Linked DNA regions of Homo sapiens. The protein of the gene in region 1 purifies or fractionates together with the protein of each later gene. This does not show direct contact. Each region holds a gene or a part of one and is shown on either strand. Other genes may lie near its edges.

Evidence for each region. The genes of interacting proteins can lie anywhere in the genome.
Region 2: the proteins of ITGB2 (region 1) and AMPD3 purify together in Homo sapiens (affinity purification with mass spectrometry; one large-scale study listed by BioGRID and IntAct). This does not show direct contact.
Region 3: the proteins of ITGB2 (region 1) and SCARF2 purify together in Homo sapiens (affinity purification with mass spectrometry; one large-scale study listed by BioGRID and IntAct). This does not show direct contact.
Region 4: the proteins of ITGB2 (region 1) and TGFBI purify together in Homo sapiens (co-immunoprecipitation; one study listed by IntAct). This does not show direct contact.

What each region holds. Positions count from the first base shown.
Region 1 is NC_000021.9:44,886,108-44,889,953, forward strand, and holds part of ITGB2 (integrin beta-2 isoform 1 precursor), read right to left. Parts: intron 3,389-3,846; coding exon 3,169-3,388; intron 2,789-3,168; coding exon 2,586-2,788; intron 796-2,585; coding exon 629-795; intron 324-628; coding exon 261-323; 3' UTR 1-260.
Region 2 is NC_000011.10:10,492,446-10,497,568, reverse strand, and holds part of AMPD3 (AMP deaminase 3), read right to left. Parts: intron 4,221-5,123; coding exon 4,026-4,220; intron 2,671-4,025; coding exon 2,539-2,670; intron 2,000-2,538; coding exon 1,836-1,999; intron 758-1,835; coding exon 631-757; intron 1-630. UniProt on the Homo sapiens protein: AMP deaminase plays a critical role in energy metabolism.
Region 3 is NC_000022.11:20,427,021-20,432,143, reverse strand, and holds part of SCARF2 (scavenger receptor class F member 2 isoform 2 precursor), read left to right. Parts: intron 1-41; coding exon of another isoform or gene 42-155; coding exon 156-214; intron 215-297; coding exon 298-399; intron 400-606; coding exon 607-1,126; intron 1,127-1,235; coding exon 1,236-1,454; intron 1,455-1,586; coding exon 1,587-1,715; intron 1,716-2,310; coding exon 2,311-2,414; intron 2,415-2,490; coding exon 2,491-2,608; intron 2,609-2,788; coding exon of another isoform or gene 2,789-2,803; coding exon 2,804-2,919; intron 2,920-4,525; coding exon of another isoform or gene 4,526-4,593; coding exon 4,594-4,746; intron 4,747-5,123. UniProt on the Homo sapiens protein: Probable adhesion protein, which mediates homophilic and heterophilic interactions. In contrast to SCARF1, it poorly mediates the binding and degradation of acetylated low density lipoprotein (Ac-LDL).
Region 4 is NC_000005.10:136,026,936-136,032,592, forward strand, and holds the start of TGFBI (transforming growth factor-beta-induced protein ig-h3 precursor), read left to right. Parts: upstream 1-2,052; 5' UTR 2,053-2,120; coding exon 2,121-2,254; intron 2,255-5,657.

The DNA of each region.
Region 1 (3,846 bases):
GAAACACGCACCTAACCTCACCAACCTCAAGCCCTCCCTCCTCAAGTCTCCATGCAAAGACTGTGCCAGTCAGAGTGGAGCTGTCCCCCCGACGAGCCCCCAGAAGCACCCGGCCGGCCATGGCTGTCATTTTGAGGGCGGAAAATAACTGGATTTCTGGTTAATTGGTGACATCCTCAAGAGCTGTGGCAAGCCATGTCTCGGCCGCGTGATGGGGCAGACATGGTGGGTCCTGACGGCCTTGTCTTCACCAAGTGCTCCTAACTCTCAGCAAACTTGGGGTTCATGACCGTCGTGGTGGCGCTCTTGAAAAGGGGATTATCCTGGTGGGAAATGCAAACAGGGGCTTGTGAGTGTGGGAGGTTTTCAGAGCAGAATCTTTCTCCCTGAGGACACTCCCCGCATGGAAGCCGTCACTTTGAGGAAGAGCTAGACGTGGGGCAGCCCCCCCAGGGTCCCAGCACCGGCAGCCAAGCTCACCCACAGCGGCGGACGCCCAGAGGACAAGCTGCCTGGGGAGGCCGGGGTGCAGCCACACACGGGTGTCCACGGCCTCCCGCAGCAGGAGGTCGCATAGTGTGGGACGCACGTGCCCCTCTGCGTGGGACCCCCAAGGACGGCCACTTACATTGTTCCACTGGGACTTGAGCTTCTCCTTCTCAAAGCGCCTGTACTCCCGGAGGTCGCTCAGGTGGATCAGAGCCTTCCAGATGACCAGCAGGAGAATGCCGATCAGCACGATGCCTGCCACGGTGCCCCCGACGATGGCGGCGATGTTGGGGCCTGCCACACACTCTAGGGAAGAAGCAGCACACCTGAGCGTCAGTCCAGCCCCATCTCACTGAGCCGTGTGCCCACAGGTCCGAGGTCACCCCACAACACAGCACTTAGAGAGACGGAGGTTCCCAGGGCCCCGGCTCACCATCCATCACCATGGCCAGGGGTCAGTGAGAACCTGGCCCAGCCCCTGCTGGATTCCAGGCCAGGCCCTGTGGTTCCAAATGAAACCTAAGGGCCATTGCCACCACCCCTGCTGACAGAGAAGAAGGCAGGGCCAGGGTACCGGGCAGCCAGGACAGAGTGCTAATACTGGGGGGTAGGACACAGTGCGAGGGACCCCGCTCTCCTACAGCAGAGTTCAGAACCAGGCTCAGGGTCCCTGCTGGAGTTCACTCCCCATACTGTGAAAGTGATTTGTGGTCGTCAAGGACAAGACCAGAGACCAGAGCTCAGCAGGTGAGGCCGGTGCCAGGATGAGCAACGCAAGGTCCTGGTTCCCACGGCAGCTGTGCCCACCTCCTGAGCATGGGGACTGTGGGCCATAGTGGGCCAGGCCCACAGCTGCTGACCCTGGGACAGACACTAGCGTTCAGTGCAGTCCCTGGCCTGGTCTGGCATCCTCACTCCCTGTACCCCTCCTGCCATCCTGACCTGCACCCTCACTCCCTGTGGTTGCTCCTGCCATCCTGATCTGCACCCTCACTCCCTGTGCCCCCTCCTGCCATCCTGACCTGCACTCTCACTCCCCGTGCCCCCTCCTGCCATCCTGCCTTTCCTGGGGGACCTGCCTTCCTTCACCTGTCCTCAAAGGTGAAGTGACTTGGCCAGGATTGCACAAACCAGACGTGACCCAAGTCTGTCCCTCAAAGTGGCCCGCAGGGGTTCCTGCCCTGGCAGGTGGGGGTCTGCAGCCCCAGGCCCACATGTGGGTTGTGAGCTCCAGGCATGTCACCTACAGGCTCAGAGACCCCCGCCGCCTGCCTCGGGTCCCTTCCTGGTGAGGGAGGAGCTCCCAGGTCTCAGTTCTGCAAGAGTCCTGGCCGGCTGCTGGCCATGCCTGATGGAGTCCGCCAGCGGCCCCCCAGCCCCAGCCCCTCTGCCTCTCAGGAGCCTGTGGAACATGAGACCTGAAGAAGCAGGGCCAGTGTCACCAAGGTCACCGTGGGGCTGGGCCTGGTTCCAACTGGAGCTGAATGAGACAGGGTCAGTGCCACCAAGGTCACTGTGGGGCTGGGACTGGTTCCGACTGGAGCCGAATGAGACAGGGTCAGTGCCACCAAGGTCACTGTGGGGCTGGGACTGGTTCCGACTGGACTGGAGCCGAACGAGTGATGGGGACGGTGGTGCCTGGTGGCCCTGGGCCCCTCCAGGGCTGAGAGCCGAGCACCAGGATCTCCCAATCCCCTCAAAGGAGCCTCACGCAGCAACCTGACCGCGGGCCACCCCTGGGGACCTGCAACTGCAAGCCTTGCCCCATGAGGCATCCAGCGGGAGATGGCCCGGGCCGTGTGGCATGCTGGTGGGCCTGCCCGGTGTGGAGCAGTGGTGCCCCCAGGGAGCAGGCCGTCTGCTGCCCAGCTTGATGTGGGGTCAGGTGAGGAGGGGAGGGAAAGGGGAGGCTGCTGGGGGTGAGGGGACCGGCCTCTGGCCTCCTTGCAATGCCAAGGGCATCCCGCATGGCTCATCCACCCTGCTGGGCCCACAACACTGGAGGTGAGATCCTCCTTCCGCACCACCCTCGCCTCTGCGGAGACCCCGCAGCCGGAGCTCTGGAGCCGGTCCCCGCTGCACCCCAGCGGCCTCACCTCGGCTCTCATCCACATAGATGAGGTAGCGGTCCATCCCGTCCTGCTGCTCCAGCGTGTAGGCCACCCAGCAGCCCTCTGAGTCCCTCTCCTTGCAGGTCCTGCCCTTCACGGGGTTGTTCGACAGCTGCAGGCCCGGACACGCCGCGCTGCAGTTCTTCCCAAAGGGGCCCTTTTCGAACTTCAGGCACTCGGCGCAGGAGCTGCGGGGAGCCAGGTGTGAGCATCGGTGCCAGGGTGTGCGGGGGCTCCGGCAACGGGGGCTCGGGCTTGGGTGTGTGTCCACCAGGGGGGGCAGGTGGGGTTGGGGCGCCCTCAGGCCAAGGAGGGGGCCCAAGTGGGGCAGATGCGGGTGCAGCGGGTGAACTGGAAGCCTGATCCCAGGGCCCGCGGCAGGTGCGCACAGGAGGGAGGAGGGACACAGGGGCACGGCGGCCGCGGAGGGCCCCTCAGTCCAGACGCACCCGCAGAGAACCCCGCGGTGCAGAGGTGCTCACTGGGGTCCCCGAGTGAGCCCGGCTGCTGGGTAGGTGGCCGGGGAGTGGGGATCCCTGCCCGCCCTGCCTGCTCCGCCTGCACTCACATGTACTTGCCACAGGGTGAGGGGCAGCCGGGGCACTCCTGGCACAGAGGCAGCTGGTAGCCTGAATGGCACTCGCATACGTTGCAGCGGCACCGGCCACGACCACTACACTCAACACGCCGCGGGTTCAGGCAGCCCTCAGTGGTCCTCTCGCACTGGCACGCTGAGCCCTCAAAGCCCGGGTGGCAGCGGCACTTCCCGCAGAAGCAGAGCCCCCTCCCTGGAAGACGGGGCAGCACGGCTAAGCTCCTGCTTGGCCTGGGAACCGAGACCCGCCCGAAACCCCACTGCGGTTGCTCCCTCCGGCCCGCCTGCCTCCTCCAGCCTGGGGGATGTTCCTGAGCAAAAGGCATGGGGCCACTAGCCAGGCCCTTCTGCCCCCGCCAGCCACGTGGCCGCCTCCTGGCCAGTCTGGACCTCCCCTGCCCTGCTGTGAATGGGACCTCAATAGGGCTATGACCGTTCCTCCTGTGGGCCCTCCCCACAAGGACGCCTTGTCCTCATGGACACAGAAACTGAGGCAGGGCGGGGTGCAGGGCCATCCAAGTTCCTGCTGACGCCCGGTGGCTGGGCGAGACTTGCACTGTCTGTCCTCAGGATCCCCCCTTTCTGTTCCACTCGTTGAATGGTCCAGAACGCACCCCCCAACACCAAGTCTGTGCCGCAGGACGGCCGTTG
Region 2 (5,123 bases), on another chromosome or scaffold:
CCTCTCCCTGTAGAAAGTCATCCATCACCAGGCACTGGCCTGTATCACCATCTGATACCCCCTCGATCCCAGGCATCCGGAGGGTGGGACCGGCTCCCGCCCCCTCCGCCTCCCTCCCTGGTTAAGCCTCTCCCAGACTGCTCCTCTCCTTCTCCTACAACTGGATCCGGAAGGGAAATACACTTTAGGGGCTTGTACTTAATCACACATGGTGTGAGGGCCTCTGTTGCGAGGTAAAGCAGGTGAATTGAAGTGTTTGCATTTCCGAAAAAAAAACCTGAGGCTGCTGCTTGGTGCTGCCGGGGGCTAGATCCAGCCTTTCCAGCCCCACCTGGCAGGAACCGAGTTCCCAGTCTTTGCCCACTGTTGCCTTCCCTGCTGGGGGAAAGGCCTACCCCAAGACCACCACCCCCATCCCCCCACACCCACTGACTCCCAGAGCTGCCCCTGAGGAGAAGGGGACTTTTTAGAAATCTAGCTTCTTGGGGCTGGTGACCCCACGCCTGGAACACAGGTGGCAGGACCTAAGATACCATCGTGAAGGGCAGGAGCAAGCCTGACCCAGCTCACAGCGAATCCATTCCTGCCTCTGCCGCTATGAGCCCTGCCTAGGGCACCACCCACACTTACATATTTAAGGAAGAGGTGAAGCTCTCGATGATCTTGGGGGTTGATAGTGGCCTTGAAAAGGGGCAGGAAGATGTTCTCCAGCATCTTCCCAAAGTTTGGCAGCAGCTTCTTTGACCTAAATATGTCACTGGGGGACAGCAAAGACTCGCTTGTCAGGTGGATCCAACAGCCTGCTGCCCTGTCAGAGACCAGCCCCAGTCACTTCCTCAGGCACCCTGTGTCCCCATCAAACACCCAGAATCAAGTCAGATGGGACCAGAAAACAGATCCCTCCTCTGTCCTCCTCTCCCAGCAATGTCTGCAATATTCTGCCTTGGTTTGCAAGCTCCACACCTACCCATGCCCATCAGAGCACTTTCTCAAGCCAGAAGCCACTAGGAATGGGATGGTGGCATTCTGGCTGACCAAGAGACTGAGATATGAATCCTCAAATTCCCAGTGACCCAAACATTCTGTTACTCAGCTCTGTTTCCCTAAACCACATACCCCAGCCCATCCTGGAGCCATGGGCTCCACCCTGGCCAGCCGCCTGGAGAGGACAGCAGCCGTCTGAGTGACATCCAGGGAGAGGCCAGCAATGTAGACCACTACAGCTCTCCCCATACCCTGGGGCTCACCAAAAGGACAATCCATCCTCAACCCACAATGAGAAGAAGGCGGGGGTAGTAGTTCCCCCAAGGCCTTTGCACATCTATATTTTTCAAAGATCAAGAGTTCTAGTGTCAGCTGGATGCAGTGGCTCACACCTGTAATCCCAGCATTTTGGGAGGCTGAGGCAGGTGGATCACGAGGTCAGGAGTTCAAGACCAGCCTGGCCAAGATGGTGAAACCCCATCTCTACTAAAAATATAAAAATTGGCCAGACGTGGTGGCGGGTGCCTGTAATCCCAGCTACTCGGGAGGCTGAGGCAAAGAATTGCTTGAATCAGGGAGGTGGAGGTTGCAGTGAGCCAAGATCATGCCACTGCACTCAGAGCCTGGGTGACAGAGTGAGACTCTGTCTCAAAAAAAAAAAAAAAAAAGAGCTCTAGTGTCATGCAGACATCTTTTTCATCACTCCTTCTATGGAAAAATCCCTGGAAAGGACAAGCGTAAGCTGGCACCAGAACAGGCCCTACCCCTCAGGAGTGCAGACTCAGCAGCCCATGAGGGACAGATTGTCACCTCTGTAGGGCACAGGGTAGACAGCGGGCCACCTCACTTACTAAATCCGGGGCACCTGGATGATCCAGCGCATGTTGGGAGAGTAGACCTTGTGCTGGATGAACCAGTAGGCCAGGTTGGGCCACTCCTCAGGACTGCGGCCGTAGATGGAGAGCCGTGGCTCTGAGTACTGGTACTTGCTCTCCTCCAGCTCCCGGGCAACCTCCTGGCACAAGAAGAGCTTGGGTCAGCCCCAGTGCATCCCAGCTACATGGGAGACTCTCACTCTCCGTCACCAGCAGGGTCCTGTTGCTCCCCCAGCCACCTTGCTCCCAGGCTGGAAGCACTCATCTAAATCCCCAGGGCTGCCTGCTCCTGTAAGCTCTTGTTCCACTTTAGGAGAGGCCCCCTCTGGTGAGGAAGGCCTTGGGTCTGCAGAACCAGGCCACAGCAGAAGCATCTCCACACGGAGCTCATCTGCACCCAGCTAGGTTCAGGCTGCAGAGACACGAAAGCCAGGCCAGGTGCTGTGAGCTTGGCCAAGGTGGATACCCTTCCCTCCTCTTTCCTGCAGTTGGCACATGCAGCACTGCCTGGAGCAGGCAGCCAGACCACAGCACTGGGCACCTGGGCACCTCACCCTTCCCTGAGCTGATGGTACACAGAGGGAGGGGAAGGGGCCAGGGGCACACAGGGCCCCCACTCTCTGAAGGCAGATGTTGGGAGGCACCTGAGAGGCCTCAGAGAGACTGAGGGTTCACTCACCTTGACCATCCGAGCAAAGTACTCTCCTCCCAGATAGTTTTCAGTTTTCAAATACAGGTCACGCAGCTCACTGGCCCCCACAGGGTTGTATTTGGAGTTGAACTTGTCAAAGCGGTGGAATGTCTGCCGGCCCTGAGGGGGGAGACCACACCAATCAACGCATCGTTCTGCAGCCACCATGCACGTTCCCCTCTCTAGACCTTTACGAGGCGGCCTTCTGTATGGCCACACCGAAAGACATCTTCTATGTCAATTCTTGCATGAAACCTTAGAAACTCCTGAGCACCAGGACCATGGATCCTCACTCGGTCAGCTTGGGATCCTTTGGCAAGGCCCCCTGTGAAGGAACAGCAGAGGCCCCACCTGCAAGTTACCACAGCTCGGCTCAGGACATGGCTGACTTAGTGAGCAGAGAGGCTGCACCACTGAATAATAGAACATTCCCTATCACTACTCACATTTTGTAAAGCACTTTCTCCACATTATATCATTCAATGTTTTGTTTAACAAAAGTTTTTTTTGTTCTAATAAAGCATGTACAACACAACGTTTACCATTTCAACCATTTTTAACCATACAGTTCCAGTGGCTTTAAGTACATTGACATTGTTGTGCAACCATCACCACTAACCATTTCCAGAACTTTTTTATCATCCCAAACAAACTCTATACCCACTAAACACTAACTTCCCATACCTTCCTCTCCCCAGCCCCTGGTAGCTTCTACTCTCCTTTCTGTTTCTATGAATTTGCCTATTCTAGGGACCTTATATCAGTGGAATCATATGATATTTGTCCTTTTGTGTCTGGCTTCGATTTAGTATAATCTTTTGAAAAATCCATTCATGGTTGTTGCATGTACAGTACTTGACTCCCTTTTATGGCTGAATGATATTCCGTTGTATGGATATACCACATTTTGTTTACCCATTCATCTGTTGATGAACACCGGCTGTTTCTATCTGTTGGCTGCTATGAATAATACTGCTATGAACATTGGTATGTGAGTATCTGTTCAAGTTCCTGCTTTCAGTTCTTTTGGGTATATACCTAGAAATGAATTGCTGAGGCATAGGTAATTCTATACTTAACTTTTTTAGGAACTACCATACTGTTTTCCATAGCAGTTACACCATCATTTAGTGTTTTAATATTTTTTTAAGTTAATAAGGCACATGGCTGTCACCATTTTATAGGCAAGGAAATAAAGGCTTCTGTGAGTTGCCTAAGGGCACAAAACTCCTAAGTGGCAGGAGTGGGATTAGTGCTTAGACCTGTCAGGCCCCAAGCCACACACCCTCTTTCCCTGTCCCATGGCTGCCCCAGACCTGTTATTCTCTGAGGCCGCATGACCTCTCAGTCAGATAGAAGAGAAAGCTGCTTCCGTAGCACCTCCCGGCAAGCACAATCATGGTGGCTTTCCAGGGGGCTGAGTCCCCAGCCAGGGCTGCTGTCTGCTGGCGGCACTGGAGCAGAAGCTCACTCACCGCGTGGACATCCAGTGAGTCCACAGTGAGGTCGTAGGGGTCCATGTGCAGGCCGTCAAACACCTGCCGCAGGGTGATCTTCCGGCCCCGCTTCTCTGCCACAGTCCTGTCAGGCTCCGTCTGGTATGTGTGCTTGATGAAGCGCAGCAGATGCTTTTGGTTCATGCAGGCGGCCGCATGGATGTGTGTGTCCACCTGGAACACAGCGCCCACCAGGCCCTGAGTCAGGCCACCTCCCCTAGCAACAAGAGTTAAGACATCCAACCCTCAATGTGCACAGAACCCCAGCACCTCATGGGCCATCCGGGCAGCCCCACCAGTGTCTGGATCCCACCCCCCATTTCTCCTCCAGACTTCGGAACTGGTATCCCTCCCTTTCAGCCTTGCTGCGCATTCCACCTCCTTACAGCACCAGGAAATCTTTTTAAAATGCAGATTGGATCAGGCCATTCCCCAGTTAACAAATGACCTATGGGCCCATCAGTCTCAAGATAAAGCCCAAGCACCTTGGCCTGAGATTCAAGGCTTATTTCAAGCCTTAACTCTCGCCTTGCCACTGCCCCATTCTGTGCTGCAGCCGTGACAAACCACTTACGGGTACACCACACACCAAGGTACAGTACACTGCATCCCTTTGCCCACGTGTTTCTTCAGTCTGGAATGCCCTCCTTTCTCTCCACCATCTCATCCACCTAGAAATTTCCCACAACCTCCTCCATTTGGGAGCCAACCTTGTTCCTCCAAGCACAACTGAATGCTCTTTCCCTTGCCCAACCTCAAAACCTGGCACAGGCATCCCATTGTTGTGCAGACCGTCCCGATCACTCTAACGTTTGTGTGTCTACGCTTTCACTAGACTGGGAGCTCCTCAAGGACAAGGGCCATGTTTGATGCCTCTAAGTCTTCAGCACCTACCCCAGAGCCTAGTACAAAGTCGAACCAATGGATGAATGAATGAACAAATTAACAGGTACGACAGGTTCTCACAGTTTTAGTGATAACCCTGAGGGCCCATCAAATCCCACTCTTCCCATTGATCCCTCTCAGAACCCTCAGAGCATTCCCAAAGCAAACCTCCAAGTGGGAATGAATGAAAAG
Region 3 (5,123 bases), on another chromosome or scaffold:
CAGACGACTGCCTGGCAGGACCTCATTAACCACCCCCCTAGGACAGGAGCGCAACTGCAGAGGCAGGGAGGCTGTGCGGAGGCTGCGGAGGAGCCCGGAGCAGATGGGGGCTGGGGGAGGGGCATCGGGCTTAGATGTCCTCCCTCTGCTCGCAGCTCCCAGGTGCCCACGTGCTGCGCTGGCTGGAGGCAGCAAGGGGACGAGTGTGGGATTGGTGAGTGGGTCATCCCGGGGACCTGGGGCGGGGGAGGGGGCGGGGCTAGGACGCGCAGCAGCTCTGGCCTGTCTCGTCCACAGCGGTGTGCGAAGGCAACTCCACGTGCTCAGAGAACGAGGTGTGCGTGAGGCCTGGCGAGTGCCGCTGCCGCCACGGCTACTTCGGTGCCAACTGCGACACCAGTGAGCGTGGGGTCGGGCCGGTATTGGTCGGTGGGGCGGAATCCTGGAGAGATGGGGCGGGGTCCAAGGTGGGGCGGGGTCGGATCCGCCTTCGGGGCGGGTCCCCAGAGGTGGCGGCTGGAGTGCGGGACGCGGGCAGGTTCCGGCTGGCTGGGGGCACCTACTCAAGCACCGGGGCCTTCCACCCCCTCCGCTCCTCCCCTGCAGAGTGCCCGCGCCAGTTCTGGGGCCCCGACTGCAAGGAGCTGTGTAGCTGCCACCCACACGGGCAGTGCGAGGACGTGACAGGCCAGTGTACTTGTCACGCGCGGCGCTGGGGCGCGCGCTGCGAGCATGCGTGCCAGTGCCAGCACGGCACGTGCCACCCGCGGAGCGGCGCGTGCCGCTGTGAGCCCGGCTGGTGGGGCGCGCAGTGCGCCAGCGCGTGCTACTGCAGCGCCACGTCGCGCTGCGACCCACAGACCGGCGCCTGCCTGTGCCACGCAGGCTGGTGGGGCCGCAGCTGCAACAACCAGTGCGCCTGCAACTCGTCTCCCTGCGAGCAGCAGAGCGGCCGCTGTCAGTGCCGCGAGCGTACGTTCGGCGCGCGCTGCGATCGCTACTGCCAGTGCTTCCGCGGCCGCTGCCACCCTGTGGACGGCACGTGTGCCTGCGAGCCGGGCTACCGCGGCAAGTACTGTCGCGAGCCGTGCCCCGCCGGCTTCTACGGCTTGGGCTGTCGCCGCCGGTAAGCGCGGTCTCTCGGCCAGGGAGGGAGGAGGTGGAAGGGCGGGCCGCCGATGGGGACAGGGGTGAGGCGGGTCCCAGCCTTCCCTAGCCTCCGACCCCTCCCCCAGGTGTGGCCAGTGCAAGGGCCAGCAGCCGTGCACGGTGGCCGAGGGCCGCTGCTTGACGTGCGAGCCCGGCTGGAACGGAACCAAGTGCGACCAGCCTTGCGCCACCGGTTTCTATGGCGAGGGCTGCAGCCACCGCTGTCCGCCATGCCGCGACGGGCATGCCTGTAACCATGTCACCGGCAAGTGTACGCGCTGCAACGCGGGCTGGATCGGCGACCGGTGAGCAGCCCTGCCTGCGTCGGCCCAGACACGCAGTCCCCCGCCCTGCCTCCCTAACAAAGGCCCCAATGTCGAGGGCGCTGTGGTCCGTTTGCCTCCATTTCTGCTGACGCCTCCTCCCCTCTTTCCAAGGTGCGAGACCAAGTGTAGCAATGGCACTTACGGCGAGGACTGCGCCTTCGTGTGCGCCGACTGCGGCAGCGGACACTGCGACTTCCAGTCGGGGCGCTGCCTGTGCAGCCCTGGCGTCCACGGGCCCCAGTGAGTGCCCCGGGACCGGGAGGGGGTTGGGGGCTTGTACCTGCCACAGAGGGGGGTCCAGCCGACGAGGTGGCCTCTCCACCCTGAGCTGGGTTATCACCTCAGCCTTGGTCCCTTACCCCAGCTAGGGAGTGACAGTAGGCTCTTTGGGGGCAGTTTCCTGCCTGGATGTCGGGGAGCTCACGTTCAGCGCAGGATCTGGTGACCAGTCCAGCCTGTGTCAGTGGGCTCTTAAGGTGACCCCGAGTTGGTACAGAAGGACCAGGGACCTCCACTTACAGCCAAGGGTCTGGTTCAGCAGCCCCTCTTCCCACCTAGCCGAGTCAGCCCCAGCAGTGGGCGCTGCGGCGCGGCCACCACGGGTCCTATCCCCCAGGCCCCCCCACTAGTGTTGTGCAACATTCGTTTCCAAAACATCCACTACCCAATATGTGCCACGGGCGGGGCGGGGCTTCAATCCCTAGACGACGAATGCAGCGAGAGAGAGCCCGGTTCTGGGACCCTGGACCCTGGGCCCTGGCCGCGGGTGAGGGGTGAGGGTAGGGGGCATCCTAGGGGGGCGGCTGTGGCATGCCTTGACCCTATGTCCCGGCAGCTGTAACGTGACGTGCCCGCCCGGACTCCACGGCGCGGACTGTGCTCAGGCCTGCAGCTGCCACGAGGACACGTGCGACCCGGTCACTGGTGCCTGCCACCTAGGTAAGTGGATGAGGGGCGTCCCGTTAAGGAATGCAGGGGGTGCCAGAAACCGCGCTGACCCCATAACCCCCTACAGAAACCAACCAGCGCAAGGGCGTGATGGGCGCGGGCGCGCTGCTCGTCCTGCTCGTCTGCCTGCTGCTCTCGCTGCTCGGCTGCTGCTGCGCTTGCCGCGGCAAGGACCCTACGCGCCGGTGAGCCCAGATACTGCCCCGCTTTCGCCTGGGTTCAGGCCGCACCCTCTGGGTGCCACCGGACCCAGATCCAACCCTTCCGCGCCCCTGCCCCGGACGTGGCCCCGCCCCTTCTGTGCTTGGCTCCGGCCGAGATCTAATCGCCCCTGGGCCCCGCCCCGGCCCCGCCCCTCCGCTCAGACCCCGCCCCCGCAGGGAGCTTTCGCTTGGGAGGAAGAAGGCGCCGCACCGACTATGCGGGCGCTTCAGTCGCATCAGCATGAAGCTGCCCCGGATCCCGCTCCGGAGGCAGAAACTACCCAAAGTCGTAGGTAAGGATGACAGCGCGGGGTATCTGGGAGAAACACCTCTCGACGCAGGAAGCTGCTGGGAAATGGGTGTGAGGGGGTCCAGATCTCAGTGAGGAAATGGGGGACCTTGAGTGTTGATGTGCGTGGGCGCGAGGAGGTGCGACCAGAGGGAAGGTAAGAGGTGTGGCAGCTGCTGAGGGCGAGGCAAGGTAGGAAGGCAGGAGTCCTAGGTGCGCCGGCTGATGTGGGCATATGTCAGAAACGTTGGCCCTGAGAGTGATCGCATCAGGGGTGTGTGGACATCTGGGTCCCGCAGGCTCCCCCAGTCTGTAGGAGAATGCTGTATATCCCGGCCAGAGCTGCTGGGGGAATGCGTGGCCACGGGAGTGCCCTGCCCCACGGAGAGGACCCACCCTCCTGCCTACATCCCCAGCAGTACCCAGAGATCCTCCTGGAAAGTGGGCAGGCTGGTCCCCACCCACCAACAGGATAGGGGGGTGGGGTGTGCCGCTTCTCTCCATGCTGACTTGCACCTGGGTGGACCCTCTCTTCCTCTCTTTCCCACTTATTTCTAAAGATGGAGGGGAAGGGGGCTCAGACTCTTGGGAGATGAAGGAAACAGCTGAGAAAACCCCTTAGCCAAGCCGGGCATGGTGGCTCATGCCTGTAATCTCAGCACTTTGGGAGGCCGAGGCAGGTGGATCACCTGAGGCCTGGAGTTCAAGACCAGCCTGACCAACATGGAGAAACCCGGTCTCTACTAAAAATACGAAAGTAGCCGGGTGTGGTGGCGCATGCCTATAATCCCAGCTACTCTGGAGGCTGAGGCAAGAGAATCACTTGAACCTGGGAGGCAGAGGTTGCAGGGAGGCAGAGGTTGCAGTGAGCCGAGATCGCACCATTGCACTCCAGCCTGGGCAACAAGAGCAAAACTGTCAAGAAAAAAGAGAAGAGAAGAGAGGAGAGGAGAGGAGAAGAGAAGAGAAGAGAAAAGAAGAAAGAGAAGGAAGGGAGGGAGGGAGGGAGGGAGGGAGGAGAAACCCCAAAACTGTCGAAAGAAAAGAAAAAGCAAGCAAGCAAGAGAGAGAAAACCCCTTGGCCCACCTAGCAGCATGGCATCTGGGGACATAGGTGTGGGGAGTGGACCCCACATCCCTCTGTGGAATGGAGGCCAGGCTAGCCAGCTTCTGGGGCCCCCTGTTGTGGGGTCTGCATCTCTGGAGGCCAGGCCTAGGGTGCAGCTTGCTGAGATGGGCTGAGCCAAAGGGCAGCCCTGCCACTGCGCATTTGGGCTCAGAAGTGCTCCAAGGCTTCCTTATTCGCACAAGGCAGGGCCTAAAACAGAGCTTGGAGGCCTTGGTGGCCTGTCCCAGCCAGGTGTCTTCTTCAGCCCCGTCTCCCACCTTTCTGGCCTTTTCTCAACACGTCAGCCCAACCTTTTCCAGCTCCCTGGATGCACACACTTGCCTTGCACCTTAACACATGTTGTGCCCATGTTTCTTTTCTGGGTTCACCTCTACCCATTCTCCAGTCCTGGCCCAGTGTCACTGTACCTGTTGAGTTGCCTGTGCCCCCTGCAGTCCAAGAATAGGGCTGGTCTTGGTCACCCCATCAACATTTGTCACAGCAGGGGCTAATGAGGGCACCGGCTGGGGCAGAGTGGACCCCTGGCAGCTCTGCCTCATCCTTCCCCAGTGGCCCACCACGACCTGGATAACACACTCAACTGCAGCTTCCTGGAGCCACCCTCAGGGCTGGAGCAGCCCTCACCATCCTGGTCCTCTCGGGCCTCCTTCTCCTCGTTTGACACCACTGATGAAGGCCCTGTGTACTGTGTACCCCATGAGGGTAAGTAAGGCCCTACCTGGGCATCACTCCAGCCCAGTGAAATGTTCCCATGGAAAAGCTGTGTTCTGGGTGGGACACAGGAGAAGGGCAGGCAGCATGGAGAGGAAGGCCTTGGCCATGCTGGTACCTGAGGGTTGCCCACAGAGCTGAGGCCATAGAGCTGGACTCTGCTGCTCAGTACCGGAGACAGGTGTGGGGAGATGGGTAGGCCACAGCCCAGGGTTGCTCCTGGGGGAAAGTAGGCAGAGAGAAGTTTCTGGGCTTAGGTAGGGGGTGGCAGAGGAGACAGGAGGAAGGGATCCACAGAGTATGGGAGTTGGATCCACACACAGCCTTTGATCCACAGATAGCAGAAAGGAGCCTGATGGTCTGGGATT
Region 4 (5,657 bases), on another chromosome or scaffold:
CCACTAAAATCTCCCATACACCTGTTCCCTCCTCTCCACTAGCTTGATCACTCCCCATGCAGGCCCTCAGTTGCTTTATGCTCTCAGTAGGCCCTCCTCCAGTGCCCACACTCTCTCCCTTCTCCTTCCCACCTTCTTTCTACCAGAGTTCTAACCTCTCCAAGCCCCGCTTGTCTTTTTCTTTCCCTGGCTGCCATCCTAACTCGCCCCTTCCCTTCTCAGACAAGCTTCTACATGCTACTCATCTCTCCATCAAACCACCATATTCGGGCTTTGGCCATCTGCTCTCCACAGCCAAGTCCCCAGTGGCCTCTCTGCTTCTGACACAGTGAAAGCCATTCAGATCTGTCTTGTTGGCAGCATTCCTCACTTTGAGCAGCGCCCTCCTACTAGGATACCCCTCCTTGACTACAACCCCACATTCTCTACTTCCTGGGCTCTTCTGTCACTGGAGGATGACTCCCAGGTGTGAATCTTCATCCCGCGTCCCTCACTCAAGCCCCCGATCCTCATATCCAGCTTTATCCTCATGGGATGCTTCACCAGGATGAGTCATAAGCACCTCAGACTCAGGGTGTCCCAAACCACTCATCTACCTGGCAAGCCTGCACTCTGCATGTGCCTCATTCTGAACATGGCACCATCACCTGCTGCAATGTCCAGACCACAAACACCCTACAATATCCTTGACTCTCCTTTCTCCCCTTCTCCCTGTATACAGACTCCAAATTCTATTGAGACTATTACCTCCTACACCCCTCACATTTGCCCAGCCTTCCCCATCTCTGCCTCTACCACCATAGTTCAAGCTCTCCCATGGTCCCTTCCTGGTTACCTGTTCTTCTTGCCTCCTTAAGCCTCTCATGACACTGGCCATGTCACTTGCCTCCACCCATCACCCGCTAGGCTCTTAGCTGGAGTCTGGGCCCTGCTACCTTCCTCCCCTTCTTCCCTACCCTTGACTCCACCTCCCTGTGCTTCAGCCAACCAGATAACTTGAGTTTCGTGAATGCATGCCTCAGTTTACCTGATTAACTCATTTTCATCTTTCAGGCCTCAGAGCAGGTATCACCCTGTCAGGGCCAGGTGCCTCTTCTTAGCTCCCAAAGCCCCAGCTACTCTTCATGGAACATCATTGGCTTGGGCTACGGATCTTCCCAAATTGGAGCTTTTTCACAAAGGGCTTAGGTCTCACTCATTCTATTAATCCATCTGTGTCTCCCCAGGGCTAGCAGTGCCAAGTAACTGACAGGTGATTAATAGATGCTTGGGTAAGTATCACCTCTTTACCATGTGACAATTTGTTTACCTGCCTTGAGCTCCTCCAGGGCAGGACTCTTGCCTTTGCAGAATCTATCTGGCAGGTACTGTTGCAGAGATGTTTACTGAAGAAGGGAATGAATTAGTACCAAGGTGAGGACCCCACCCTTCCCCACGGGCTCCAAAAGCAGCTTAGAGCCCAACAAAACCTGCCCCACATTTTTGGCGTTTCTGTGGATCACACGATTTACTCATCTGTCTTTCAATGAGCATGACAGGTGGGGTGGGGGTGGAGGGATTAGAGATTGAGGAGCTGGGGAGGGTGGTCAGCTCCTGGGGTGCAGAAACAAGTCTGATGGGCCATGGTGTTCTGGGAATCAGCACTGCCTCCCCTCACCCCTCCCTGCAGTGTTTTGTAGCCTCAAGATCAGTGAGGGAATCTTCGGGCCCCCAGCATGCAGGACCGAAGCCCCCGAGACAGCTGTCCCTCAGTCCCAAGGTCCCCATTTGGAAGCAGCCACAGGAGGCCTAAGGGACCTATACCCTTGGTTTGAGGAAGACTGTGGCGAGGGAGAGAGGGAGGGAGGGCTGGCAGTGAGGGCAAGGGCTGGGAAAACTGAGCACGGGCACAGTGCGGGAGCGGGTGGGTGCCCAGGGCAGCCAGGGGCGCACGGGTTGGGAGGCGCCAGGCGGCCCGCCCTCCTTGCACGGGCCGGCCCAGCTTCCCCGCCCCTGGCGTCCGCTCCCTCCCGCTCGCAGCTTACTTAACCTGGCCCGGGCGGCGGAGGCGCTCTCACTTCCCTGGAGCCGCCCGCTTGCCCGTCGGTCGCTAGCTCGCTCGGTGCGCGTCGTCCCGCTCCATGGCGCTCTTCGTGCGGCTGCTGGCTCTCGCCCTGGCTCTGGCCCTGGGCCCCGCCGCGACCCTGGCGGGTCCCGCCAAGTCGCCCTACCAGCTGGTGCTGCAGCACAGCAGGCTCCGGGGCCGCCAGCACGGGTAAGCCGAGCCGCCTGGCCAGGGGCTGCGGAAGGTCAGGTAGTCGGGGCTCGGAGCGCAAGCCGCTGGGGGCATTGAACTGGGCTGGGGGCGCAGGGGACAAAGCCCGAACTAAAAACCTTGCAGCATGGAGCGCTCGGACACCAGCCCTGCACGCGGTGGAAGGAGAGAGGGAGGGAGGTGGAGGACCATGGAGGGAAAGCGGGAGGCCGCCGCTTTGTAGAAGGGAGTGGGGAAGTGGACCAGAGACTTTCGACGCAGGCCAAGAGCCTGAGACGGACAGCGCTTTCAGCTTCTCCTCCCAGCCACTGCAGAAAGGGGGAAATGGCAACTCTTTGGCCATAATCACCGTGGGAGGGTGCCAAGGGCAAAGCCCACCCAGCAGTACACCTATTCCAACCCAGCCAGGCCCCCGGCCAGCGACTCCAGACAAGAACCTGGGCCACACACGGTGGCAGCATCTAAGGTGCCCCAGGCTCCTGTGCTCCTGGCCAGGCCCTGCACTCAGACACTGCTGGCACCCGACACTGCTCTCTGGGTACAGCAAGGGCAATGTGGCACTTCTTGTCCTGCCCGATGAAGAGCAGGAGAATGCACTGGGCCCTCACACACACTGTTCAAATGGGGAAACTGAGTCCTGAGTGGTTCCACTTTCCCACAGTCCTGAAGTGTGCACTGGAGCCAGGATTGGAGTCTGTCTTAAAGTAATAGCTGGGTTTGTAAATGTAGGACACTATCATTGCAGGAATTCCTTTGAGACCCTGAAGATGTGTTGGCTTTAGGAGACAAACTCAAGCAGAAGGTCTGGTCTGATAGTGGCCCTAATACTGACCCAGGCAGAGGCAGGCAACATTTCTACCTCAAAAACCAGGCCATACCTGCGTCACAAATACCCAGGCTTTGCTGCAGCTTCCAGCCTACCTGGTTGCACCAACTTCTTTTTCATAACTAGGTAAAACTATATATGAGTAGAATCTTGTAGTGACTCCTCAGAGGAAGCCTAAATACCATCGGGGTCTGGCGTTCACACCCACAAGCAATGCCCAAACCTCCAAGAGACTGGGCAGATCTGTGCTCAAATCAAAACTCATTGTTGGGGGTGATAGAGTTGACTTCACAGGCCCTGAAAGTCTTGGCTCCTTGCACTAGGAGTGCTCTGGGTACGGGTACAGGCTGCCCCTTGTAGGGCATAGTTGCTCTTGTTTCCTCTACTTGTGGCTTTATGGTCTAGGCCTTTCAGGAGTTTGGGGCTCTGGCGGAGAGGGCCTGCTGGGAGCACATCTGGCCACCCTGCAGAGTGAAATCAAACCAGGCCTGGCTGCAACCTCAACACCCTCCTGGAAAGAGGAGAATACTGGGGATATCCTGGGGTCTTTCTGGAAGTGGGAGAATCAGCTTTGACTTGGGCAGTGTGCAGAATAGAGTGAGGGGGGATGTCAGAAAGATGAGAGGGATATGAGGCCTCAACATCAAAATGCAAGCACCTGGCATTTTTATTATCTCTGCCCACCTCTCCGTTGGTCTCTCTGCCTTTCCTGCCAATGAATTGTGTTATGTTTGGGTGCCTCAATTTGCCTAGGAGGGTTCTATTTCTTCTGTATCTTCGCCACTAAGTCAGGAGAAGATCCTTATAGCATGCCCTGCAACAGTGTCACCTGTAAGGGCATCTCTCTGCACAGCCACAGTGAAGGATCCTCAAAGGTATTGAGGGCTTTCCATCAAGAGCCATCTTTACAGCAAACCTCTTTCCCTTCAGAGCCCAGAAGAGTGCTGACCAGCTGGAAAACAGGGTTTTTTTCTTAAATGCAGATGCTCTTGATTATGAGTTCCAGATATTAGATCAACTTCCCCACCATACCCCTGCAGGCAAAGCCTCTTAATTAGCTTCCTGCAGCACAGCTGGAAAGGCCTATTGTAATCTGTGATGGGCAGAGTAATCTAAGAAGTCACAGGAGCACCCCTGTCCCAGTAGAATCTGGATGCGCAGGCACATGAACCATGGCAAAATGGTTGCAGGCACAGTTGTATTTACTCTGATCTAACTGTCCCTGTTAATGCCACAGGGCTGCCTGGCCTGGCACACAGGGCTGTGGCGCCTTGTGCAAATGGATAACGTTGTTCTAGCTCCAGCCTTTCATTCAAAGTGAAAACTGTTAGAAAGGGAAGGAAAACTTTGCTATTTTAAGGAATTGTAGCGTGCTGCCTGATATGAAGGAAGAAATAACAGCTGTGCCTTGCTTGTGCGCAGCACTCGATTGCCGCTTTTGCTTTCGACCTCACCACAACACAGTGAGATCTACTGTTCATGTTCCCATTTTACAGGAGGTGAAACTGCAGCTTAGTGAGGTAGAGAGTGACTTAGTTCAGACACAGAATGCTGTTGGGAGAGTAATAACTATGATATGGTCTCTTGACTCCCAGCTATATCTGTGTTGCTATAGGGAAGGGGAAAAATAATACTGAAAGAGAAGTAAAAATACAATCACACTTCCAAACATCAACCACCAAAAACTGAACTGAATTTCCTGAAGCACTTGGTTTTCAAATCTAAGCTGAACATCAATGCTGTTATTCTTGAGGCCCAGAAGCAACTTGCTCATTTCAATTAAGCTTCAGCATGAACTTCCTATGTACACAGCCCACCCACACTCCCCGATGTGAGAAGGAGAGGGTCACAGCCGCCCCCAGCCTCTGCTGCTGCCACAAGGACAGCAGCAGTGGAAACATTCAGCAAAGGAATGTTGGAGCCACATCCACAAGAGACTCACTGAAGATTCGCCAAACGCCTACGGAAAGTGGCAGGGAATTCATTGACAGTAATTGTTTCCTGCTTGATCAGATTGAAGAGCTTCTGGGATTCTGTAACAATAAATAGGACCGGGGGCTGGAGTATGGCCAGCAAGGACTCTTCAGGGGTTATTCAGGGACTGTCTAACCTGTGAATCCTAGGCAGCAAACAGAAACCAGGTATTCAGAAATCTGGAGGATTTGGTCAGGCCCAGCTAGGACTAGGGAGGCATGGGCCTCTGCTGGCTGTGGTCCCTTCTCCAGCCTTCACTTCTCTTGTCCCTAGATCCTTACATGGATTCATTAATGCTCATTGTCCCTCCTGGGCCCACTCACTTTCACCTGTTGAACAAAAAACTGGCCAAGAGGTGACAGTCATATCACCGCAGAAGAGACAGGGCAGAGAAATGAAGGGGCAGAATGGACTCCCACCCAAAAGCCTGACTCTGAATATTTGAGAATTGTTCAAGTTCCTGCAGAGGAATCATGATGGGGACAGTAGGTGTAGTTTTTACTGCAATATTGGTGTCTTCTTAACAAATACGCTGCACATCAAGTGATGTCTGTGGATGGCATTCTTAAAGTAACAGGGAAATTGATGTTAAAGAAATACTTC